Linked DNA regions of Homo sapiens: regions 1, 3, 4 and 5 are each linked to region 2. The links come from fine-mapping of genetic effects on gene expression. A gene starts in region 2. Each other region holds a variant in brackets. All regions are shown on one strand. Distances are between the middles of the regions.

Region 1 (5,000 bases), 32 kb before region 2:
CAATTATTAACTTTCACTCTACTATTTGAGAGTAAATTGTAGACACTGTGACCCTTTATCCCAAATAATTCAGTGTGTCTCTCCTAAGAACAGGGACACTCTCTTGCATAACCCAGGTTCAGTGATCGACTGCTGGAAATTTAGCATTGATATCTGTATCTCATATAAATTCAACATTTAAATTTTCCCGATTGTCCCAGTGATGTCCTTTGTAGCATCACCCCCCACCCTCATCCTAATCCAGGGTCTCAAATTACATTTAGTTGTCATGTCTCTAGTTTCCTTCAATCTGGAACAGTTCCTCAGCTTTGTCTTTCATGGCATAAACGTTTTTAAAGGGACCAGGCCGGCTGAATGTCCCTCCGTGTGGGTTTGTCTGATTGTTTCTTTAACTTTTTCCTCATGCAGCTGGTTCTCTCTCACTCATCAGACCTCAGCTTAAATCTCACCTCCTCAAAAAGGCATTCCCAGACCACATTCTAAATGATATCTCCTCCTTTTATCTCAATCCTTTGTTTGCCAGTGTGGAATTTTTAAATTTGTGCTTATTTTTGCTCCACCTCCCTCAGTAGACTGTAAACCACTGGCTGCGTTTCTGTTGCTCATTTGCATCCCCAGTGTGTAGCATGGTGCCAGGTATATAACAGGCACAGTTGCCAAGCGAGTGAGTTCTTCAGCTGCTGACTAAATAAAGATGCTCAGTGGCTGTCTCCCCACCCCCTGAGCTGGCCTGGCTCCAGATAAACACGTGCACAAAGGCCCAGACTCAGGCTGGAGTAGAGCAGCTCTGAGGAGATGCTGGCCGTTTGTGCAAGCCTTGTGACTGGCTCTCAAACCCACAGACAGCATTATCTTTTTGACCGATTTGTTCACATCTGGGACCTGGTCTCACCCTCTGGGGACGTAGTGTGGTTGGATGGGGCTCAGTGTGTGATCATAAAAGGAGCCAGGCCGGCTGAGGCAGCCACTTAACTCACTAAAGCATCAGCCATTTACTTAACACTCTTGTGTTCCAGATGTTGAGATGACAAAGATGAATCAGGGTCCTTGTTTAGGAACTTGTAGCTTAGTAGGGGGACAGGCATGCAAATTGAAACAATACAGTACAGTAAATATACTGTGATGGAGACGTGTACACAGTGCAGAGGGAACCCAGAGCAGACAGCAGTTCATGCTGATCTGGGGATCAAGGCAGCCTTCAGAGAAGGTGATGTTTGATTTGGGCTTTGAAAGATATGTAGGAGTGCACCAGGTAGAGAAAGGGAGCTCAGGATTTCCAGACACAAAGGAAACCCAAAGACACAGAGATCTGGGAGGACACACTAGGGTTTGGTAGGGCTATGTTATGGGGTGGGAGGAGGAGGAGATAGGCTCATATTTGTCGTGGGTGGTCTTGATTCCAGACTGGGGAGTTTGGATGGGCCCTGAAGGCAGTGGGGCCACTGGAGGCTTTTACTAAGATCAGAGCCATGCTTTAACAAGATCATTCTGGGATCACTGCAGGAGAGGAGTGGGGTGTGTGTCTGTGTGGTGGGACCCGCTTATACTCGTTTGTCTCCCATCCTGCATCATGTGACCTGGGCCTCCTCCGTCTCCTCCATCCAGGTGAGTGAGGACTGGAAGTACGTCGCCATGGTGATCGACCGCCTCTTCCTCTGGATCTTTGTCTTTGTCTGTGTCTTTGGCACCATCGGCATGTTCCTGCAGCCTCTCTTCCAGAACTACACCACCACCACCTTCCTCCACTCAGACCACTCAGCCCCCAGCTCCAAGTGAGGCCCTTCCTCATCTCCATGCTCTTTCACCCTGCCACCCTCTGCTGCACAGTAGTGTTGGGTGGAGGATGGACGAGTGAGCTACCAGGAAGAGGGGCGCTGCCCCCACAGATCCATCCTTTTGCTTCATCTGGAGTCCCTCCTCCCCCACGCCTCCATCCACACACAGCAGCTCCAACCTGGAGGCTGGACCAACTGCTTTGTTTTGGCTGCTCTCCATCTCTTGTACCAGCCCAGGCAATAGTGTTGAGGAGGGGAGCAAGGCTGCTAAGTGGAAGACAGAGATGGCAGAGCCATCCACCCTGAGGAGTGA[T/C]GGGCAAGGGGCCAGGAAGGGGACAGGATTGTCTGCTGCCTCCAAGTCATGGGAGAAGAGGGGTATAGGACAAGGGGTGGAAGGGCAGGAGCTCACACCGCACCGGGCTGGCCTGACACAATGGTAGCTCTGAAGGGAGGGGAAGAGAGAGGCCTGGGTGTGACCTGACACCTGCCGCTGCTTGAGTGGACAGCAGCTGGACTGGGTGGGCCCCACAGTGGTCAGCGATTCCTGCCAAGTAGGGTTTAGCCGGGCCCCATGGTCACAGACCCCTGGGGGAGGCTTCCAGCTCAGTCCCACAGCCCCTTGCTTCTAAGGGATCCAGAGACCTGCTCCAGATCCTCTTTCCCCACTGAAGAATTCTGCACCCTCTGGACTTCCCTCTTCTTCCTTCCTTTCTCAGGCTCAAGGTGTGGGGGGCAAGGCTGAGTATTAGGGGAGCTTCTGAGTTCTGAATCTTTGGGTGACCTGCTTGGAGTCTCAGGTCCAAATACTTGAAATCTGTGAGAAGTCCAAGTTCATGGGCTTTTGGAACTGGAAGAACTTTGTACAGCCATGGATTCCAACATAAGCCATGTTGCAGATGAAGAAACTGACCCACACGGTGAGACAAGCACAGGTGGGTCTGACTCTTCCTCCCTGCCCTGAGATCCATCTGTCGAGTGCCCTGTTTTTTCCCCACTTTGAACTGACTGGTTACTCTAAGGAAGTGAACTGAGGATGTTAGCTTTAAGCCAACCCAGCCTCTTTGTCCACAGCAGAGCTGAGGTGAACAGCTGGAACCCTGCTACATCCGTGCTGCTCCAGTCTGTTCTGCTCATGGCTCCATCCTTCTGGCTGTCACTCTTCCTCTTCCCCTTCCCAACCAAACCTGAGCAGCTTTGAAGCAGAACTTGGGAAGGACAGGGCTGCTGCTGCCAGCGACACCTCAGAAAGCATAGCCTCGGCTTCCTGCCCCATGTGTCCCTGGAAGCTGTACCCTGACTCTGCTTCCAGAGGCCAGCAGATGGTGGGTTACAGACGGGTCAGCCTGCCAAGTGCACCTGAGGGACCTGACCTGACACAAGCCATTTTGTCCCTAGAGCCCAGCTGGGACTCCTGCTTCTCTAGGCAGGGCAGAGGGAGGAGACACAGCACAGGCACAGAGCATGGGACAGGGACCCCCGAGTCTGGATTCAAGTCCTGGCCCTGCTAGTAACTCATGTGAGCCAGCTTGAGCAAGTCCCTTCATCTTGCTAGAGCTCAGCTTCCTTGCCTATAAAACGTAGGTGGCAATGCCCTCTTCCTGAGGTTGCTGGGAGGATAAGGCAGTGCTTGTGAAAAAGTCTAGCGCTGTACCTGGCACAGAGTAGATGCTTCATGAATGTTGAGTCTGACAGGCAACTGGAGCTGGTGAGAATGGGGTCCCCTGACTGTCATGCCAGCCTCCCTCCCAGGCCCACTCTTCCCCCCTCTTCCCTGAGGAAACCAAGTCTCCCTTATCAGGAAGAGCTGGGGGAGCTGGGAGGAACATTACAGGAACACCAGAGGGAGTCTAGCGGGTGGGCAGGCTTCTCTCTGCAGCCCCCTCAGCAGTTTCATTCCATTCCTGGGCTGAACCCTTGCCCTGGCCCTGCCTCCCTTCTGGGTCAGCACCTCCTGACACAGGTGTGTGCTCAGGGACCCCAGGCTCTAGTCCTGTACTGGCTGTGGAAGCCTATCACTGGGACAGGAAGCCAGTGGCTGCAGGAGACAGGCCTCAGCGCATCTCGTCTGTCAGGATGGGCTCACGGACACCTTTTCTTGGTAGCAGGGAGTGTCTCTGCACTATGGAAACTTTCCCTCTTCTAGAGCGGATTGGGAGTTGCCTGTATTATGCCTGAACCCTCCTTGAACTCATGGTCCTGGGGAAGGCGTCTTGGAACCAGAAACAGCAACAGGAAAGGAGCCTCCCTCTGAAGGGTAGGATGCCGGCCTGAGGCCCTCCCTCTTGGCTCTCCCAGGGCCTGGGCTACCCCGAGGCCCCAGCAGCTGCTGCTGTGGCTGTACTTGCTTTTAATATTTCCCATACATGGCTGTTGTCCAAGTTAAGTCACCAAATGGTGCTAGAGGGGATGGCAGAGAGCAGCTTGTCCAGCTCCTCTCCATGACCCGGTTAACACACGAGTAAACAGGCCTAGAGCTTGTCTGCTGTTTGACCTCTTTTAAGACCCGGCTGTGCTGCATCTACAAAATGAAGATGACAGAGCTAGCCGAGGTCTTCAGCAAGGAAGAAAGGGGTCAGTGTATATGAAAGGGTTACCTGGGCAGTGTCATTCCCTCCATCTCTGTACGCAGCCCTTTGGGAACCATCACAATAAGGAAGAGGTGAGGGCAGAGGTGAAGGATCCACTGCCCAGGCAAGGTGCTACCATGTGGTGGGAGAGTGTGAACCCTCAAGTGCACTGGGAAGCTTTGGGGAACCACAGTCTCTTCCACCCTTGGGTCGTGTGTCGTCCTCTTCTCTTGATGTCAGGGAAGCCCCTATGCCTCCTTCCCGTGGTGGGGCTATCTCTGCAGAGAATCGGGTGCCCAGCTTAATGCTGGGCAAGGACTGGAGGAAGCTCCAGATCTGGAGGTGGCAGAGATACTGGATGGAAACCTGGAGCAAGGGTTTGGGAGGGGAAGTGAGGAAACAGGTTGAGACTATCTCCATCAGAGATGGCAAGGCCACAGGTGATCTGAGAACTATTTTTGTCTGAAAAGAAGGCATGCACAGGCTCTCTGCTTTTGACAGGTGGCGTTGCAGTGGGAGGAAGGCAGCTTCCTGGCGGGGAGATAGAAATACTAGAACAGCTGGTACCAAGTTATTGAAAATTTAAAAGCAAACAAGACACAGCAGCCCCCAGGTGGTGTGTTCTACTGAGGAAGGCTACGGCAGAGGAAGGGCAAGA
Region 2 (5,171 bases):
ATGATCTCGGCTCACTGCAATCAGGCTGGAGTGCAGTGTGATCTCAGCTCACTGCAATCTCCGCCTCCCGGGTTCAAGTGATTCTCCTGCCTCAGCCTCCGGAGTAGCTGGGATTACAGGCGCACGCCACCACACCCAGCTAATTTTTGTATTTTTAGTAGAGATGGGGTTTCACCATGCTGGCCAGGATGGTGTCGATCTCCTGATCCGCCCTCCTCGGCCTCCCAAAGTGCTGGGATTACAGGCATGAGCTACCACGCCCGGCCAGTTATTTTATTTTTTTAAAATGTGTCATATCTATTTGTATTCACCTGGGGATAATTTAGGAATCATATAATGTTCAATAAAACAACAAAAAGTTGTAGAATAGTATGTACATTATAATTTTTTTCCCTAAACAAAAAGAGAAAATCCATGAATGTGTATGTGTGCGCACAATGGAATGAACACAGAGAAAAGAAAGGAGATGTAAGTTTGCTAAGGATATCTTAGGGCAGTAGGGTTAGAGGGAGAGGAGGAGATTATTAATCTTTCTTTTTGCCCCCCTTAAATCCCCTAAACACCAAGCCACCGTTGAGTACAGCCATTTGGAAAGCTACGGAATAGGAGAGCAAGAAAGTGAGCAAGCAACCCACAGTGATCCTTTCTAAATCTCTCAGCATCACCTCTATGCAAATTACATAACAACTCATTTAACATTCATTGCCTCCCAGATTTCACTTTAATCTGGTCTCACATATTTAGGATCAAGAGATAAGCACTACCCCCTTTGCCTTTACCACACAGGTTCCACAGTGCAATACACTGACACCTGTGCAGAAATGCTTTTCCTTCAAGTTAGGCGTCCTTAATCCTTTCAAAGGAGTGCTTAAAAAAAAAAAAATATATATATATCTTAACAAAATTGAGGTATATAATTTAGATACAGTAAAATTTATCCTTTTAAGTGTATAAATCTATGAATTTCGACAATCGCCACCACAATCAAGATATAGAACATTTCTATTTCCCTAAAAAGCTTTTTCATGCCACTCAACAATCAATTTCTTCCACGATACCCAGTCCCTGGCACCCACGGATCCACTTTCCATCCCTATAACTGTGGTTTTTTTTTTCCAGAATGTCATATAAATGGACTCATACAGTATGCAGCCTTTTGAGTCTGGCTTCTCGTGCTTAGCATAACGCACTTGCGAGTCACCCGTGTTGTTACTTGTAACAGTATTTCCTCTTCACTACTAAGCAGTATCCCATTATGTGGATGTATTTCAGTTTATCTGTTAACCTGCTGAAGGCCATTTGTGTTTTCCCAGTTTTTAGCTATAAAGTGGTTAACAAGCTTTCTCCTACAGCTTAAGTGCCATTTTTAACTCCCAGAAGGCCTTCAGGAGGTGGATAAGGTGAGCTGAGGATAGTGTGCGCTGCTCAAAGTCCGAACGTTGTTCAAGTGGGGCTAAAGCGGGGGTAGGGGGTTCCACAAGGGGCCCTAGCAGAAAGGGAGACGATGTGTCTGCCTTGACATGGGCTCAGGCCTTCCTACTCAGACGGGGGCGCATTTTCCCCCAAGCCCTCTTCACGCACTGCTCCATTCTGCAGAATTAATGAGCAGGATACAAATTCACAAATTCCTAAACCAGCAATGCTGCTTGGCAAGACTACACACACACGCACACACACACACACACACTCTCACAAGACGCACAAATTCCTAAACCAGCAATGCTGCTTGGCAAGACGACACACACCCACACACACACACTCACAAGACGCACAAATTCCTAAACCAGCAATGCTGCTTGGCAAGACGACACACACACACACACTCTAACACTCACAAGACGCACACGCTACGCACTGCAACACAAAGCCTGTGAGGTTGTAAACGAACCCAGACGGCGGCGAAGGTCCAAGGCCGGCCCGGCTTACCTGCCGCGGATTCATTGCGCCCGCGAGGCATTGCCCGGCCCGACCCGCCGGCGGCACGACCCTGGCCCGACCGCTGGGCCGCGCCAGCCCCTCGAGGCCCCCACGCCTCCGCTACTCCGCACTGGAAGTGGCCCCGGGGCGTCGGCACGGGAAACTCCGCGGGTCTGCGCGCCGGGCCCAAGATGGCTCCGGTTCAATTTCGCTTTCGTTTCCTCGGAAAGCCTTCCCCTCCGGAAAGTTTGGCCAAGAGGAGGGGCTTGAGCAAATCTTGCGCCACGCTTGGTTTCAGGCCGGTTACAAGTCGAACCCCTCCGCTGCATGAGAACTACGGAAGGTACTTTTTTTTTTTTTTTTGAGGCGGAGTCTCGCTCTTTTTGCCCAGGCTGGAGTGCAATGGCGCAATCTCGGCTCACTGCAACCTCTGCCCCCCGGGTTCAAGCGATTCTCCTGCCTCAGCCTACGGAGTAGCTGGGATTACAGGCGAGCGCCATCACTCCTGGCTTTTTTTTTTTTTTTTTTTTTGTATTTTTAGTAAGAACAGGGTTTCACCACGTTAGCCAGGGTGGTCTCGAACTCCCGGCTTCAAGAGATCCGCCCACCTCGGCCTCCCAAAGTGTTGGGATTACAGGCGTCAGCCCCCGCGCCCGTCCGGTACTGTTTAGGAAAACCGCCGTTTCAGTACTGAGCTCCTAATTCCCCGCACAGGCCGTAGGCAGGAATACACGAATAGAGCAAAAGGAAAACAAAGGCACACAAAACCTCAGGCCAGAAACAGCATGACGCCCGGTCCTCCCTCTCTCCGCGCCAGCGCGGTGGTGGCCGCGTCTCCAATGTGGAGGGGGGGGGGAGGGGATGGGCGGGAGCGCAGATCTCGTCAAACGACCAAGGTCCCCACCGTGGGACCTTGTTAATGCTCCTACTATGTTATAAACTTAAGCAAGCAGATGCCAGCCAGTAAAAAGTACCAAGAGTAGCAACAGCAGCAGTGAACAATTTAGGATCTAGGTCATAAAAACTACCCCACCAGGCAAATGGTTAAGTACTTTACATGTATTATCTCCCTTAATCTTCACAACAGCCCTCCAAGGTAGGCATTATTCCCACTTTGCAGGTGTAGAAACCGAGGCTTGACTAAGGCCACGCTGCTGCCAAATCCAGGTCTGAAGGCTTTAGTAAAGCTCAGTCTTCAGCGCTTCTCTACACTCATTCAAATTACACCATTACTTTCAAAAAGATAACTTTTGTTATCTAGAGGGACAAAAGTCAAATTTGCTTCATGGTCAGGCTTCTCTAACTGCTGGATTTTTGTTCAAGGTATCTGGGAAACGATTATTCTAGGGTTCAACACCATCCTCACCTGTGAGAATGTTCTTTCCCTGTGTTTAATCTTAATTTTACCCCCATGCTTATGAAATTACAAGGCAGTCCCTTTATAGCAGTATCTCCAGCTGATGCCCTTTCATGGTGTTAGTCACTCCAAATTAACATTCCCTTGCAGGCTGGGCTCTGTCTTCCTTCTGGGCCTTTGCACATTCTATTCGTTGGCCTAGCATGCACCTCCTCCACGGCTTCCCGTGAATCAACCTTTCAAATTTACAAGGGAGGCCTTCCCCACAGCAGGTAGGGGGAGAGGAGGGGGAGCAGGTGCTGTTTGTGGTTTCCTACTCCATGCTTCTCGAGTTACTGGGCGCCTACCCCTAATAGGGCACTTGCACACTGCGCTAAAAACGCCCCATTCGATCATTTAACAAAACTTTACTAAGCACCTAATTATGTGGCAGATACTGTGTTAAGCACCCAGGATATGACACAAATAAGAGCGCCATCCTTTAGCTAGTCTGCTAGGGAAGATGGATGCCTCAGTAATCACAATTATCATGTACTTCTTGTTCATATATCTGCCTCTAGAATTGTCAAGTCATCTCCTCGGGGGCAGGAAGCATGTTTTGTATCCTTATATTCGCCTTCAGAGGGCTGGTTAGTTGAAAGAATAACAGACCCCTCAGTAGGTATAACAATGGGCAAAAACAATCGAAAGACAACTTCACAGGAGATAAAAAATATCAAACATATGAAAAGGTTCTCAACCCCATCACATCAGAGAAATGCACAGTATAGCTACAGTGAGCTACTGTCCATTCACCAGACAGACAGCATTAGCCATCTGATTAGACCAGGTGGCAGCAAGGATGCAGAGCAGCTCTTAGTCACTACAGGAAACCAGTTTACCATTATCTAGAAAGGTAATGGTAAACCCCAAGAAGTTCATGGTTGCATTATTTGTAATTAATAGCCCCCAAACTGGAAACAACCCAAATGTCCATCAAAAGTAAAATGGATAAATGGTGGCATATGCCCATGATGGAATACAATACAGCAACAAAAATGAAAGATCTACGCATGCAACAAGGTAGCTAATTATCTAAATATGATACTGAGTGGGAAAAGCCATATGTATACTATATGATCCCACTTACAGAAAGTCCCAAGCCAGGCAAAACCAAACTATAGTATGCTCTGCATAAAAGACAAAATGAGGCCGGGCGCAGTGGCTCATGCCTGTAATCCCAGCACTTTGGGAGGCCGAGGTGGGCGGATCACGAGGTCAGGGGATCGAGACCATCCTGGCCAACATAGTGAAACCCCATCTCTACTAAAAGTACAAAAAATTAGCTGGGCATGGTGGCGTGTGCCTGTAGTCCCAGCTACTGGGGAGGCTGACGTGGTAGAAACGCTTGAAGCAGGGAGTCGGAGGTTGCAGTGAGCCAAGATTGTGCCATTGCACTCCAGCCTGGAGACAGAGCAAGACACCGTCTCAAAAAAAAAAAAAAAGAAAAAAAAAAAAAAAAAGACAAAATTGTGGTTAATCACTTCTAGGGAGAAAGGTGGGAGTTTTGACTGGGAAGAAATCTTTTGGGTACCGGTGATGTTCTAGCTCTTGACTTGGGTAGTGGCTACATATGTTTGCTTTCCAATAATTTCATTATACATTTACGTTTTATTCATGTTTCTGTATATATATGCTGTATTTCACAAATTTAAAAGGTAAAAACAAACAAGAACCACAACAAACTCTTGCTGTTGCAATTCCAGTCCACTTCCCCATGTTTTTTTTCCTCCGTTTAAGTAACAGGAGTTATATCTTACCTCTGCTTTCTTGTCTTCAGGCAAGACAATCTGAAAGCCTTTACCCTTCTTCAGAAATGATCCAGAAAAGCTTTAATCACAACTACTGTGCGAGGGAA
Region 3 (5,171 bases), 26 kb before region 2:
TCAGGGAGCGTCGTGGGAGGACAGTGTTGTTCCCTCTGGACACAAAGTGGCTGGGCACTTGCCTCAGGCTGAGGAAACTGTCCACTTTTCAAAAGACCTGGCACTACATTTCTGTCCATGTGGAACCGGAGCTGTCTGAGAACAGAGAGGACAGAGGCACTCAAGGTTCCTGGTACATCACAGCAGGCAGAGACAACAGCCTTCACTGTCTTTCCACTTAAAAGTGTTGGCCAGGTGCAGTGGCTCACGCCTGTAATCCCACCACTTTGGGAGGCTGAGGCAGGTGGATCACCTGAGGTCAGGAGTTTGAGACTGGGCTGGCCAACATGGTATACAAAACATTAGCTGGCCATGGTGGCGGTGCATGCCTGTAATCCCAGCTACTCGGGAGGCTGAGGCAGAATCGCTTGAACCCGGGAGGCAGAGGTTGCAGTGAGCCAAGATCGTGCCATTGCCCTCCACCTTGGGCAACAAAAGCGAAACTTCGTCTCAAACAAAACAAAACAAAAAACCAACTTCAGCTTACCCAGCAATGTAGCTCAGTAGGCAATGAATGACACCTGTGGCGTTGTGGTGTTCTGGTCCTCAAGAAATATGCCCACAAACAACATGTCACTGGCCCTTCTAGCCTCAGTTGTTCCTTCTGTGTAATGGATGAGGCAGGTTTAATTGGAACTTAGCCTCACTGTTAGGTACTTTAGATCCTCTGGTTATGATATTATTAAAGGGTCCAGGATGAGTCTTCTAGAAATTCTGATGTAAATTACAATGTGAAAAAAGGTACATTCTCTCTGAAATTCAAGATGGAGAGATAATTTGGATGTCATCTATGATGTAAAAAGAAAATGGTCTGTCTCCTAAAACTACAACCAAGCCTGTCCTGGTCCTGGCTGCAACTTTACTCCAAATATGCACATTCCTGGAAGTCAAACAGCTGGTAGTAGTGGGGTTTGGAGGAGGTAGAAAACACCCCTGAAGGAGAGCTGGAATTATGTACCTAATAGGTGATCCTCTCTCAAGGGATGTTTTCCTACTCTGGGCCTTGAAATCTTGCGTCTCAAGTCCCGTGGGACAAGATATTTAATAGTGGGCTCTGGCTGGGAGCAGTGGCTCACGCCTGTAATCCCAGCACTTTGGGAGGCTGAGGTGGACCTCACGAGGTCAGGAGATTGAGACCATCCTGGCTAACACGGTGAAACCCCATCTCTACTAAAAATACAAAAAAATTAGCCAGGCGTGGTGACAGGCGCCTGTAGTCCCAGCTACTCGGGAGGCTGAGGCAGGAGAATGGCGTGAACCCGGGAGGCGGAGCTTGCAGTGAGCCGAGATCGCGCCACTGCACTCCAGCTTGAGAGACAGAGTGATACTCCATCTCTAAATCAATCAATCAATCAATCAATCAATCAATCAATCGTGGGCTCTGCTGGGGAAGGGCCCTGCTGGGTACGTAATCAAAAGGTGCCTGATGAACCCCACCCCACCCAGACGCAAATTTACCCACAAAGGGAGGTTCTTTGAAATGGCTCCTTTCCAAAGGCTGAGGGACAGCCCTGTCCCCCACAGGTTCATGTCAGATGCCACTGGTGCTGTTATCAGAAACCCCAGGGCCACAGGTCCCTTTGTTCCCATTTTCACCTCCCCCAAGAAACCAGGACTTAAAACTTTCTAAGAATTCAGATTCTTGTTTTTTTTTTATTTATGAGGAATGTATATTGTTAAGTCACTGTTATCAAGGGACACATAAAAGCAGAATCATAAAACTGGACTGCAGCCATCATCACAGTACCCGAGTCTATGCTTGGGGGTCTTCCTCACTCTGCTCTTGGAGTCACAACCAAGACTCCAAAAAACCAACGAAGTCCCTTCAATGTGAGTAAAGGAAACAGCTTCAAGCACTGACAATTTTTACAAGTGATTATTCAAGGAATGCACAGTAGCCACAGTTCAGACAAATCAACTACAAAAATCATTAAAAAGAAGAGTAGGGAGGGTCACTGCTTATTAAAAACAAAAGACTGGACAAAGAAAGTGAAGATAACAGTGGGCAGAAGCTCTGCCTCCTCTGTCCTGTGTGACTCAGAGGGGCATGGGGGCGCAGGGATGTGCGATCTGACACGGCTCGTTTCCAGCAGATGCGTGGAATTCAGGGATGCCTCGCTCTCTTCCTACAACAGAAACTGAATACTACAGGCTTGCTAGATAAGATCTTGGGGGTGAGTGGGGGTTCTGATCTTGTGAGAGCCTGTGTTCCCAGTTAAAGAAGAGGCAGCTGGCCAGAGCTCTGCTGGAGAACCTAATGCCCAAGATGGACCAGAGAGGCCAAACAACCTGAGGACTCAGCAGGTGACAACCCTGTAGCCTGAAGAGGAGAGGGGCTGCGCTGCCTTCTGATGCTGAGAACCACAGACCTCTCTGCCCTGGATGTGGGTGCCAAGACTGATTTACTGTGCCCCCAGCAGACCCAGAGCCAGGGAGCAGGCCTCTTCCACTCCAGGAGACAGGCGCCACTTCCCTACCAGTTCCTTGGGATGCTTTGGTGTTCTGCAAAGGCATCCTTAGTCTATTTTTAGAACTTGCATTTTCTTACTTTGGTCAATTTTTGGTCAAAAGTACAGAGAGCATAGAATAAAAGCAAAGATGTGAATGTCTCTACCAGACAGAGGATGACCTAGTCAGCAGTTTGGAGGGAAATCATCTGAGGGTGCTGGCTCAGCACGTTCCCAGATGAAGGTCTGTCATCTAAAGGAGAGAGGCAGGCTCAGCTCCTGAAGGTCGCAGAGCCTCAGTAGTCCTCCTGAGTGTGTCTAGCTGACTGTTATCGAGGGACACGTAAAAGCAGCATCACAAAACTGGACTGCAGCC[A/T]TCACCACGGCACCAAGTCTATGCTTGGGCTCTTCCCTGCTCTGCTCTTGGAGTCATGACCAACACTCTAAAAGCCAACAAAGTCCCTTCAACATGAGTAAAGGAAACAGTTTCAAGCACTGACAGTTTTTACGAGTGACTATTCAAAGAATGCACAGGAGCCAGAGAGCCAGACTCCACAGAGAGGCCAAAGGCTCTGAACACACGAGTCAATGTTCATGGAGGTATAGACAAAGGATTCTACCTCACAGAGTTTGAAGACAACCTGCCCTTTCACCCACAACTACTGCTTTCTATGTCAACCCTATAAAGATCAGGTCTGCGCCCTGCCCACGAGCCTACTTCTGAAGCCATCTGGAAAAATGAAAGCACTTGGATAAATGGAAAAGTATGCCTGAATTTTAAATCTGCTCAATTACAGGTTATCTGTAGCAGTTAAGAATCAACATCTATGGCATTCTTTAAAACACTCCTAATTTACATGTGACTTAGTCAACTTCCCTTGGTGTCACTGTCATGAGAGATATTACACCGGGTGGAACAGTGACGTTAAGCCAACAGGATTTTTTGCCCTTATTCTTGCTAAGTCATGATTATCTGAGCAGAGATGATTTTATACCCTCTAGGATTTGTCCCGTTGGCTAGGGTGTACGCCCAGCATTGGCGGGGAAAATATTCCTAGGAATGCTTTAGGAGAAGAGGCAGCTGGAAGCTTGGCAATATTCCAAGGCATGCCCGTGCTCCCTGGGAAGTGGTCTGTGTCATCCTGCCGGGTGAAACCTCTGCTATTGCTTGAGCAGCTCCCTTAACCCAGTCTGGCTGGTTCTAGACTTCCCAGCTGCCGGAGAAAGTGATACACTTCCAGGGAAGCAGCTTTCCTTGCCTTGCCCGCCCTGCAGCTGGCTAAAGTGCAGGATGGGAGGATGGCTGGGCATTATCTGCAGGCTCCAATCACACTTCCGTGGCACTGGGAACTGCAGTTTTCAACTCCTACCCTTACAAATGTTTCACCAAATCCTTTATGTTCACCTCTTTGCCCTCTGAGGGGGAAAAGGAGACATTCAGATCACAAGGAAAGAATCTCAGAAGGGAAAGAGGGGAAGTAGAGGGGTCTGCGTAATCCACAAATGAAATTATCAGTCCCTGACATGATCCAGAGTTGACTGAAACCTAATCAAGACCGCAAGAGGTCAGTGTAGCAAACACAAAGGGAAAGGAAATGGAAACAAATCAAAACAAAACTTTTAAGAGGAAATGGACCGCAGGTGCTCAGTGACTATGTATGCTTTGGGTAGAAAGAAAAGATAACTTCTTAGGTTTCTGCCTCTTCACTTGGGGGAAAAAAGGGGGGCCTGGCCAGACCTTGCCTAGCAATCCCAAAGAAAGCAGGATAAATGGGAACCCAAAGTTTTCAGTATCACCAATTATGGCTTAAAAAGAAAAAAAAAGGAGAAAAAAAAATCCCCTGACCATGTGATGAGGAATGCTACGACCTACCTCTCTCACACCCTAGTATGACACACCCTAATCCATCTGTCACTGGAGCATACTATACTGGGCAGAGATAAAAGTTCTTTTCCTCCTGGGGTTTGCTAATCCAGTTCCCATAGCCCATATCCTTCAGGCCTTTTTTGAAGTAGTTCTTGGCCGTCTCGTAGTCACGGGCAGCTTTCTTGGCCTCACCATAGGAGAGTCTCAGTAGATCCCTGCGGTAACGGAAGGAGCAGAGCTTCTTAAATAGAAGAAAAATGTTCTTTTTGGAGACCCGGGACAATTCATTCCGTGGCCTAGAGAAACAAAAGCACTCATTATTCACCTGGGACCTGTAAGATAAGGAGCTCACAGTGGAGACACCGTGGGAGGGGAGGCGGCTCTCAAGCCCTGAGACTGCAGAGGTATGATGCACCCTTGCAAGTCAGGGCAGAGGCTTGGTCCTCACTGCGCTCTCCTGTCTCCTTACCCATCCACAGTGCCTCTGGTACCGTCCAGGATCTCCAGGTCATAGCCATCAGCCAGACACCAGTTGACGCTTGTCTCCTTAGTCTTCCCGGATTGCCTTTTGGAATCATATATGCTGACTCTGCCAACCTAGGAATCCCAGAAGCAACGGGAGAAAGATGGAAACCTTTCAGGAATAAGATTCTGAAGCAGGGACTCAAGACTCATAGGAGAGAGGAAGTGTGGGGTCATGATCTTTCCCCTGTATTTAGGGTTCTGTTTGGCTAAGACTGAGCACCCTCTAGACATACTAACTCCACCTCGATTCAGATTAATTCCAGACTAAGAGAAGAAAAGCCCTTGGCATCCAA
Region 4 (5,142 bases), 110 kb after region 2:
TGGCCACCTCTCTGCCCAGGTAACCTGCTACTTGCTATTACAGAGGGGCTGTCGGTTGCGGCAAGAATGCTTGGGGCAGGAGTACAAGGGGGATGAAAGGAGCACCTTTCTTGGGCACCCTAAGCCTCCAGCAGCCCCAGGAGCCCTGGGAAATTCCAGGGGTCCCATTAGCAGAGCCCCCCAGAGAAGAAATCACTAGCATGCCCATTATGCTGCCAGGAACCCTTGCCAGGGAAGTATTCTACTTGGAGGTTGGAGACGGGGAAAGGGAGGCCTGGCCGGTGGGTGTGATTTAAATACACACATCTTGGACAATTTCTTCAGTGTGTGAACATCACAGAGTGTACTTAAACAAACCTAGATGGGACAGCCTACTACACACCTAGGCTGTATGGTATAGCCTATCGCTCCTAGGCTACAAGCCTGTATGGCACATTCCTGTACTGTAGGCCACTGTAACACAAATCACTAGGGGAGAGGAATTTTTCAGCTCTGTTATAGCCTTCTGAGACCACCTTGGTATATGTGCACCATCATTGACTGAAACTTGTTATGCAGTGCATGACTGTAACTTCAAGGAGTTACACAGGTTGAAATTAGGCTGAGTGATGATCAGATCACTATCGGAGAACCTGCAAGCCAGCCCTTGACTGAAGGTGTCCATTACACACAGGACTAGAGAAGGGGGCTGGTTCCTCTTTCCCATTTGCCAAGCCCACTCTCCCCTCATCACCACCCTGCAGACTTGCTCTGGCTTCCCCGGCTGCCCTCTCTTTCATCACCCTGCTTGCACCTCCTCTTTTTCCTCCCCCTGTTCTATTCCACACTCCCTTTACAGGCTTCTCTGCCTGCCTCACCCAGAGGCCCTCACTGACCACTTAGAACTGGGAGCTCCACCTCTCTGGCTGGCAGGAAATTGGGTAGAGAGAGAGGAGGTGTATTTCCGTTGTTCAGAGTTGGAGCTTGAGGTTCTCCCTGTAGCAATATGGTAATGGGTGGTGGATAATTCTATAATGCTATTTATGTGATACTCAGTTAGGGTGGAGTTAAGCTGGCTTTTCTTTTCAGCAGGTCTGGGACCCTAACCCCATGCTGAGTTCCAAGGAACTGACCGCCCTAAAGCTGCCTGCCTGATGGTCTGAGAGCAAAGTGGATCTTGCATAGGCCGGGGGCCCACCCTCGCCCCTTTCTGGGCCTTCGTCTTCTCATGTGGGTTGGAGTGGCTCTTCCCTAAGGGTCCTTCCAGCTTAAACGCACATTGTTTCTGTGACTATTGCTAAAGAAAACCTGCACCCAATCTGTCTGGGACAGAACCTTGTGCGTGATGTAATTTATAATCCTCTTCTGGGGAGAATTAGCATTCCTGATAACTGCCCTATTGATTATCTGATCCATTGTAAAGACTTGAAGACTTGTTCTGGAAATCCACTGTTGAGCCCAACCAGCTGTCCATTAGCAGTCTTTAGCTAAACCTTCTATAATCTGGCATAACAATGACTACCATTGTTTTTCCTACGAAATACCACTACTAAGAGTAATCTTTGAATTAGCCTGCTGAAGAAAATTTTCTTCTAGCAAGATTATGATCAAACTTTGGCATATGCTTGTAATTAAAGAAAAGTTTTCTTCAGTGTCATTCAGGAGATAGTAGGTGGGGAAACTACTTAAAGGTTTTTGAGCAGGAAGTAATTTGTTCAGAGCTAAGCCTGAGAGTCTAAGGAGATCCATGGGGAAGCAGAGTGCAGGATGACTGGGGTAAGGGACGCCGAAGTGAGGAGAGCAGGTAGCAGGCTGCTGTGATAGTGCGAGACAGAAGATGGCGGCTTCAAGAGTGGCGGGGCCGAGGCCCTGGAGAGGCGGGCATGCGTGAACAGCCACGGCAAGGTGAAATCAGACACAGAAAGTGCTCAGACCCTCGTGGGGTCCAGGGTCCAGAGGAGTCAGAAATGGGGCTAAGTCTTTAGGCCTGGCGTCTGGAAGAACACGATGTCAGGAGCACACCAGGGAAGTTAGGAGAAGGAA[A/G]TAGTTTAGGGAAGTTGTGGGTTTAATTTTGGTCTTATTCATTGAATTCATGGGGAAGTGTACTTGGGTGAGCTACTTGGGGCAAGAAACCCCTGCAGCAAGAAGGAGATAGGATCCTTAGCACACTGTGCTGTCTGAAGGTTCTGCTCACTGTGGCTTGATGTGGAGAGTAGGTACCGCAAAGAAAATATCTCCGGTCCATGGTGCCTCCCAAGCCAAGTGTGTCCATAGCAGCCCACTCTGCCTTTTTTTTCTTTTTCTTTCCTTTTTTTTTTTTTTTTGAGATGGAGTCTCACTCTGTCACCCAGGCTGGAGTGCAGTGGCACGATCTCAGCTCACTGTAACCTCCGCCTCCTGGGTTCAAGCAATTCTCCTGCCTCAGCCTCCCGAGAAGCTGGGATTACAGGCACCCACCACCATGCCCGGCTAATTTTTTGTATTTTTAGTAGAGACGGGGTTTCACCATGTTCGCCAGGCTAGTCTTGAACTCCTGACCTCAAGTGATCCGCCCACGTCGGCCTCGCAAAGTGCTGGGATTACAGGCGTGAGCCACCGCACCCGGCCCACTCTACCTCTTATAAGAAGAAGTGCTCTCTGAGGGCAGTCAGCCACCAGAGGTTAGGGATGGAGGTGAGGACCACCTCTTACCCATCTTGGTGCCCCCAGAGTACAGAGTGTGGCACCCAGGGAGTGGCCTCTGTGATGGATCTGTTTAGCTACATAAAACAGAAAGATGGGGACATGAAAACACTAAGTGGCAGAAAAGATGGGGCTCTAGTATCTTTCTTCCAGTCCCTCTGTGAATCATGTACTTAAATATTATCTAGTAGCCCAGAGATTAGCAATAAGTTATAATTACAGAATAACAATGGCAGTGACACTGCGAAGTCAGTGTGGGAAGATCTGATTGAATTAAATACAGAAATGACGTTGCCACCAGAGTTGATAAGTCATACGAGGAAAGAAGATAAGCATGGGACTCAAGAAAAGCAGAAATTGAGTTCTTACCCAGTGCTATCAGACCCTCTTCCCTCCCTACAAACAAATAAATAAAAATAGTGCTGGCTCTCATGGCAAAGGCTAGGCTGCAGTCTTTAGAGCAAGACAGGATGAATAAATACTAGAACAATTTGAGTATTTTCTATGATTAATAGCTACAATTCCTTTTTTCGTTTTGCGTAGGTCTTTGAAGCATCAAGGTTGCATATACCGGTAAGAGACTGCTTTTATCTGTCAAATCTACTAATTGCCCACTCCGAAGAGGTTGCAATTATGCCACAGTCAACTCCTTCATGTTGGATCTTTCTCTGAGAATTCACTGAGATGTTATGAATAGACTGAGCTTAGCATTTTTTTTTTTTTTTTTTTTGAGATGGAGTCTCGCTCAGTTGCCCAGGCTGGAGTGCAGTGGCACGATCTCGGCTCACTGCAACTTTCGCCTCCCAGGTTGAAGCGATTCTCCTGCCTCAGTCTCCCGAGTACCTGGGGCTACAGGCACGTGCCACTACGCCCGGCTAATTTTTTTGGATTTTTTTTTAGTAGAGACAGCGTTTCACTGTGTTAGCCAGGAAGGTCTCAATCTCCTGACCTCCTGAGCCATCTGCCTCGGCCTCCCAGAGTGCTGGCATTACAGGCATGAGCCACCGCGCCCGGCCAAGAGCTTCTAAGGATCATGTCTGAGAGTGAGTATTTCTTTTTTTTTTTTTCTTTTTTTTGACAGAGTCTTGCTCTGTTGCCCAGGCTGGAGTGCAGTGGTGGGATCTCGGCTCACTGTAAACTCTGCCTCCCAGATTCAAGCGATTCTCCTGCCTCAGCCTCCTGAGTAGCTGGGATTACAGGTGTGTGCCACCACGCCCCACTAATTTTTGTATTTTTAGTAGAGTCAGGGTTTCACCATGTTGGTCAGGCTAGTCTCGAACTCCTGACCTCATGATCCACCCACCTCGGCCTCCCAAAGTGATGGGATTACAGGCGTGAGCCACCGCACCCGGCTGCTTAGCATCTTCTTGACCAATGAGCCACTCCAGCTTGATACAATGGACCATTTCAAGAGGACAGAAGGCAGGCCAGGCATCCCCAGGGGAAGAGAGGTGGGGTTCTCTTGTGAGCAGGTCAAAGTCAGCTCAAACCAGAGCAGGCCAAGGATGCACACATCCAGTTTCATTTCAATTAAGGTTATGTAAAAGAACCTTCAGAAGTTCTAGTCCTGCCAGCTTTGAAAACCTTCTCTCTGTAAGAACCATCCCTTCTGTGTTGTTTATTTCCTTGAGAAAAGATATTAGATATTAAAGAGACATTTCAACAGATTTAAGTGTTCTCAGAAAAGTGAGATGTTATTCGATTAAAAAGCTACCTTAGATTCATGGGTGAGCAATAAATATTTGTTGATTTGATTTTCAGTCCTACTTTTCAAGAAGTGGAATTGAGGAGGATGTTAGGGAATCATTTTTGAAAGATTAAAATTAGCAACCACAGTCTCATCTTCTACAATTATATTGCAGAAAAATTGTTTATTTTCCTGGCATACAAAGGAGCTGGCTTTCCTCAGCTTTATTTTCCTCTAGCGTCTGATCTACTTGGTGAAAAATGGAGAGGACAAAGGAATAACACCAAATACAAAGAATATTCTTGGCTTAAAAAAGAAAACCAGAATAAACAGAGAGACTGCTAATGTCTCTACTCTTGGTAAACAGCTTATGAGAAGGCTTTGGAGGCAAAACATCTCCCTGCCCTCACTCCGGCACGTAGTTTCAATCCAGTGAAACCTCAGTAAATTGCTTCAGGAAAATAGATGCAAGTGGATTTGCATTTAGGTGTTTCAATAACTTGAATAATTTCCTCAATACTGAGCATGACTTTTGCACCCATTATTAGAGGGGGCTGAAAGAGAGTGGCCAAGTGGCAGGGTTCCCGGCAGGCCTTACTGTGATAACAGCCTTCAATCACTGCCATCGTGATGTGACAAATCATGGCTTTTTTTGGTGCAGCTGATAGCTCAGGGCCATGATGTATCAAGTACAAACACTTGAATGTCAACAACATAAGAATATTTGCCCGTACCAGTTCCTTTTAATGTCTGTTAAGGCTCTTTACAGAATCCAATAAATGTAATCAAAGACC
Region 5 (5,000 bases), 170 kb after region 2:
TTTGGTCCGGCCAGGATAGGCTTCTCCTGAGCGCTTCGCCAGAGCTCACTTTTGGTCTCTTGCAGTGTGTAATGACCACTCATGGGGGTTATGGAGTCTGAAGTTTGTTTGGGACTAACAGAGACCAGTGGTGATCATAAATCCTTTCCCCTGTCCTCAGTTCTCAGAGAAAGAAAGCCAAGTTTCGGCATTTGAGCGAGCCACTATTTTTTACTCACGTAGCAGGAATTTCTTGATCCCTGAGCACGTCACCACTAGGGATAGAGCATCCCACCTCTGGCCATCTGTGTGTGGCAAGTCTCTGGACCTCAGATTCCTCAGTGTAATGTGAAGACTTGGATGCAATTTGTGGTTTTCCATTTTCTCTGGGCTGTGGGGCCATTTCTTTCATAAGATTTTTCATGTACGCCCAACATGGGAAACAGACAAATTCAGAGCTGTTGTAGTTGAAAGGGTAGAGAAGAACATTCAAAGATCAACTCACTCACCTCCTCCTCCAGCCTAGGTCTCTGTAGTGGACCCCATGCTCTCCATAGAACCCTTTGACTGGAAATCCTTTGGATGGACCAGCTGGTCTCTAGTTGTAAGGAGAGACAAGGTGTGATGCTGGAAATCAAGTGTTTGGGGTCTGGTTCAAGAGGTGCTCGATGCACAGGCAGGGAGCTTTGCCCCGATCAGCTTATTCACTCATTCATTCATTGAGCATGAGTTGAGCCCCCATTATGTGACAGTCCTTGGTAAGCTCTAGGGATATAGCAAGACAAGTAGACAAGGCCCCTGTCCCCACAGAGCTTACATTTCAGGGGAGGAAAACAGATATTAAACAGGTAAACCATTTAATTTTAGAGAGTGATGCCTGCCAGGAAGAGAATAAGACAGGGCAAAGGAAATGAGAGAAGTCCCAGACAGCCAGGACAGGGAGGGCTCTCTATGGAAGGGACCTCTGAATCCAAAGTGAGCCTTGCAAAGGTATGCATTACAGAGGGGACAGCATGTGCAAAAACCCCAAGGCAGGATGGAGCTTAGAGAGTTGGAGAGATAAAAGAAAGAAGACCAATGTGAGAAAGAAGTGAGGGATGATACCAGGTGAGACCAAGAAGGTAGCAGGACCCAGATCATTGGGACCTTGGATGTCACAGAAGGAGCTTCCTCAAAGGACAGGAGACCACAGACCCACTCCCACCAGGGCCATGTGCACCATGTCACCACTTTCTGAAAACACACTGCCCACAGGTTAAATATGCACCACAGCTCGGGCCTCCGAAACAAAATATCATAGACTGGGTAACTCAAAAAACAGAAATGTATTTTTTCACAGTTCTGGAGGCTGGAAGTCTGAGATCAGGGTGCCAACACGGTCAGGCTCTCTTCCCGGCTTGCAGGTGGCTGCCATCTCACTGTGTCCTCACATGGCAGAGAAAGGGAGAGGGATCTCTCTTTTTCTCTTCTCCTAGAGCTGCAGTCCTATAGGACTAGACCTCATCCTTATGACCTTATTTAAACTTAATTACCTCCCACAGACCCTTTCTCCAAGGCAGTTACATTGGAGGTTAGGGCCTCAACAAATGCGTTTTGGGGAGACACAATTCAGTTCATAGCTATTCCCTTTTGTGTCAAAATTACCCAAAAGCCAGACTGTGGGCCGAGCCAGGTGATTCTGCACATACCATTTCATTGCCATCTCATAATGTCCCTGTAAGGGAGTCATACATCCATTTAGCAGATGAAGAAACCCAAACCAAGACAGGTTCAATCAATTGCCTGGGGCTTGCAGCATTCTGTGTCTTCCAAGTCCCACGCCCTTTCACCTGCCAGCCTGCTAAGCAGGCACTCTATTTGGGGGCTGGCCAGTTTGGGCTTTACTTTGTCTTCTAAAGAAAACTCGGCTGGGCGCGGAGGCTCACGCCTGTAATCCCAGCGCTTTGGCAGGCCGAGGCGGGCGGATCATGAGGTCAGGAGATTGAGAACATCCTGGCTAACACGGTGAAACCCCATCTCTACTAAAAATACAAAAAAACTAGCCGGGCGTGGTGGTGGGCGCCTGTAGTCCCAGCTACTCGGGAGGCTGAGGCAGGAGAATGGCCTGAACCCGGGAGGCAGAGCTTGCAGTGAGTCGAGATCGCACCACTGTACTCCAGCCTGGGTGACAGAACGAGACTCCATCTCAAAAAAAAAAAAAGAAAAAAGAAAAGAAAGAAAACTCAAGCCCACCCTTTAAATGCTCATTCTCAGAAGAATCTTTGCTGACCAGAGAATCAATATATGATTAAAATAAACTGGGTTCTATCCCTGGTGTCCACACCACCTGGGAAACCCACATCGTTATCTGTAATCTAGACTGGGCTATGTTTGTGGAACTAAGACCACGGCTTTCATTTCCACAGATACAATATCCATTTATCATCTTTCCCTTCCTCCTCTTCCCGCCAGTGAACAGGCCTCTATGGAGACCTGGTGATGGGGTCCCTAGCGAGGAAGAGACCATCTTAGTTTAGGAGCCCACTTATGCACCCCAGCATGTTTGCTAATGAAGAAGATTCCTCTGGACAGGCTTGGGGTGGGGTCAGAGGAGACCAACACAGGGCTTAATATATGTGCCCTAGAAATGAACAGGAACACTGGAGATGGGGGATTGTGAGCTGTGGGACTGGAAGGAGAGGGGAGCTGGCTAAGCAGCACCTTGGGCCAGTCCCATGAGAGGGGGAGGCCGGAGCCCACTGAGGACTTGACCACCCATGAGACAGGGACAGTGCTGAGACTGTAAGATCAGGAGCATGTGGCGTTCAGCGCTGTCTTATCTGTTGTGCCACCACCACCTCACCCCTTCCCCTTGCTCCAGATCCATGGAAA[T/C]GTCAGCTAACCTAGAGGCCTTGGTCATGGGTCCCTCGAGGAGCAACAGGAACAGGAAGGGTGCCTAAAGCGGTTACTAAGTACAGGATGGAGGTGGAGAATTCAGCAGAAAGAGTTTGGCATCAGATGAGCTGTCAAGAGAGAAATGGAAGTTTCCAAGCCCCCAGAGACCAGTGGAAAGACACCGGGTCCCCTCCTGTGTGGGGTGGGAGTTTGTAACCAATTATATTTGAAGCAGTAAGGCCAAGTGACCCCGGCCAATCCTTGGGTTGCTGTGGCCACACCTTGGTCTCATCATGTGCTCCACCCCAGCCATCTTTACATTGCTGCCAGAGCAAATGTTCTAAAATACAAACCAAATCATGTCACCTCCCCTTCTAGAACCTTTCCGTGGCAACCCAGAGTGTCCACCCTCCTAGCTGCACTTGGCCAAAAGGGCCTTTTCCCACCTGGCACCAGCTGGCCCCTCTATCCCCATCACCTGCCACACCCGGTGTCTCATCCCAGCTAAACCAAGTTACCAGTAACCCCTAAGCTTGCGCCCTTCCATCTTCTGTACAAGCACTCCCTCTTCTCAGCTTCTTCACCAGAGACCTCCAGATCCAGCGTCCCACCCTTCCACAGGCCTAAGCTGGTCCCTTCTGACTCCCAGGTGGGGCTGGGTGCCTTCCTCCAGTATTCCCCAGGCCCTGTGCCCCCTGCTTGTCACAGAGCCAATCCCCAAATGGCAGCTGGAGAAGGATGGCCAGACAGTTGGGGAGTGCTAGCCCCCGTTTCAGGGGGCGGAGGGAGCAGGGCGGCGGTCTCCATTAACAATGGTAACAGCAGGGGCCATGTATTGCAGCCTCACTGTGCACCAGGTCCTGTGCTGTGTGCCTTACAGGCACCATCTCATTTAGTCCTTAACAGGATTTTGAGACAGGTATTCTTATTTCTATTTTACAGACAGGGAAACTGAGGCTCGGAGAGGCTAAATAATTTACTACAGGTCATACAGTTAATAAGGGGCAGACCTAGGCTCTACAGCCAGGGCAGGCAGCTCTCTTGACTACTGTGTGTGCTGCCCCCAGGCTGTGCTAGGAAGGCTTGTTGGGCTGAGCCCCAGTGTTTGCCTATCCCAGGCCAGGCCAATAGGTGTTTCTGGTTCTTTGTGTGCCTTGGCAGATCCAGGAGTCAAAGGTTTCTGTGCATCTGCTAAGTCTGGGGTAAGAGGTATCGTTTTCTCAACAGGAAGTTTCTGATAAGTTTCTTTCCTTTTGACACATGAAAGGATCCTGCTGAATGTTTGGGGGTAGGGGAGGAACAGCATCATCACTGGGGCTGCTGGGCCCTGATTGGTTCTAAGTCACCTGTTTACCACTAAGGGAGAAATTCTTTAACCCTGGCTTAGGGGATATTTTTAGCAACTAAAAATAAATAGGTTTTTGGATCTTTGAACAGCCTAGGGAGCTGAAGAACTGAGGTCAGGACCAGGTGGTGGTGGTGGGCAGGGAGTGTTTGTTTTTTCCCCAACTGACTAAAAGGCCCTTCACCTCCTTCCCAAGGGCCAGCTGCACTGTCACCCCTTCAGGGGGAGCTTTTCCTGATCTCCCAGTGGCGGGGGCAGCACTTCAAACAGCAACAAGCCATTTGGTGAGTCCAACTTGTTGGCTGGGGCCTAAGCACTTTTCTTTTTCTTTTTTTTTTTTTTTTTTTTTTTTTTTGAGACAAGAGTCTCACTCTGTCTTCCAGGCTAGAGTACAGTGGCACGATTATGGCTCACTACAACCTCTGCCTCCTGGGTTCAAGCAATTATCCTGCCTCAGCCTCCCGAGTAGCTGGGATTAGTACCCAGCTACCACGAGTAGCTGTGCACCACCACACCCGGCTAATTTTTGTATTTTTAGTAGAGGTGGGGTTTTGCGATGTTGGCCAGGCTGGTCTCAAACTCCTAGCCTCATATGATCAGCCATCCTCGGCCTTCCAAAGTGCTGGGATTACAGGCATGAGCCACCACACCTGGCCTCCTAAGCACTTTTCTTTACATCAACTCTTTGAGTCTCACAATAGCCCCATAAGAAAAGTGAACATCCCCCAGACCTCATAGCAACTAAGTGGTGGAGACAGGATTTAAACCAAGAGGCCACACTCTCATCTATTAAGTTTCCATT

Direction of the effects. Positions count from the first base shown, and alleles are read on the strand shown. Sizes are in standard deviations (SD) of each study's normalised expression. Not every link is listed here.
With allele T in place of C in region 5, the expression in pancreas of the gene that starts at base 2,121 in region 2 is lower (large effect, 1.2 SD a copy in GTEx).

What was found. PIP is the estimated chance that this variant, and not a neighbour inherited with it, causes the effect.
Region 1: its variant is fine-mapped to the expression of ADAR in whole blood (TOPMed, PIP above 0.99).
Region 3: its variant is fine-mapped to the expression of ADAR in whole blood (TOPMed, PIP above 0.99).
Region 4: its variant is fine-mapped to the expression of ADAR in whole blood (TOPMed, PIP 0.98).
Region 5: its variant is fine-mapped to the expression of ADAR in pancreas (GTEx, PIP above 0.99).

The regions. Positions count from the first base shown.
Region 1 is chr1:154,574,157-154,579,156 of GRCh38, forward strand. It overlaps CHRNB2 (cholinergic receptor nicotinic beta 2 subunit), which reads left to right. Exons shown (of 6, transcript NM_000748.3): 6 at 1,606-5,000. The coding sequence ends at 1,776. Among named protein-coding and RNA genes, the nearest start is that of CHRNB2, 8.9 kb to the left of the region's middle. RefSeq lists a silencer at 617-911. The variant T/C (reference allele first, on the strand shown) is at 2,089.
Region 2 is chr1:154,606,066-154,611,236 of GRCh38, forward strand. It overlaps ADAR (adenosine deaminase RNA specific), which reads right to left and starts at 2,121. Exons shown (of 15, transcript NM_001111.5): 1 at 1,927-2,121. The coding sequence starts at 1,941. RefSeq lists a silencer at 1,895-2,004 and enhancers at 2,005-2,394, 3,064-4,057, 4,141-4,220.
Region 3 is chr1:154,580,395-154,585,565 of GRCh38, forward strand. It overlaps ADAR (adenosine deaminase RNA specific), which reads right to left. Exons shown (of 15, transcript NM_001111.5): 14 at 4,823-4,950; 15 at 1,663-4,649. The coding sequence ends at 4,412. Among named protein-coding and RNA genes, the nearest start is that of CHRNB2, 15 kb to the left of the region's middle. The variant A/T (reference allele first, on the strand shown) is at 2,863.
Region 4 is chr1:154,719,015-154,724,156 of GRCh38, forward strand. All of the region lies in intron 5 of KCNN3 (potassium calcium-activated channel subfamily N member 3), which reads right to left. Among named protein-coding and RNA genes, the nearest start is that of ADAR, 110 kb to the left of the region's middle. The variant A/G (reference allele first, on the strand shown) is at 2,023.
Region 5 is chr1:154,781,047-154,786,046 of GRCh38, forward strand. The region is part of intron 2 of KCNN3 (potassium calcium-activated channel subfamily N member 3); the gene reads right to left. Among named protein-coding and RNA genes, the nearest start is that of KCNN3, 87 kb to the right of the region's middle. The variant T/C (reference allele first, on the strand shown) is at 2,851.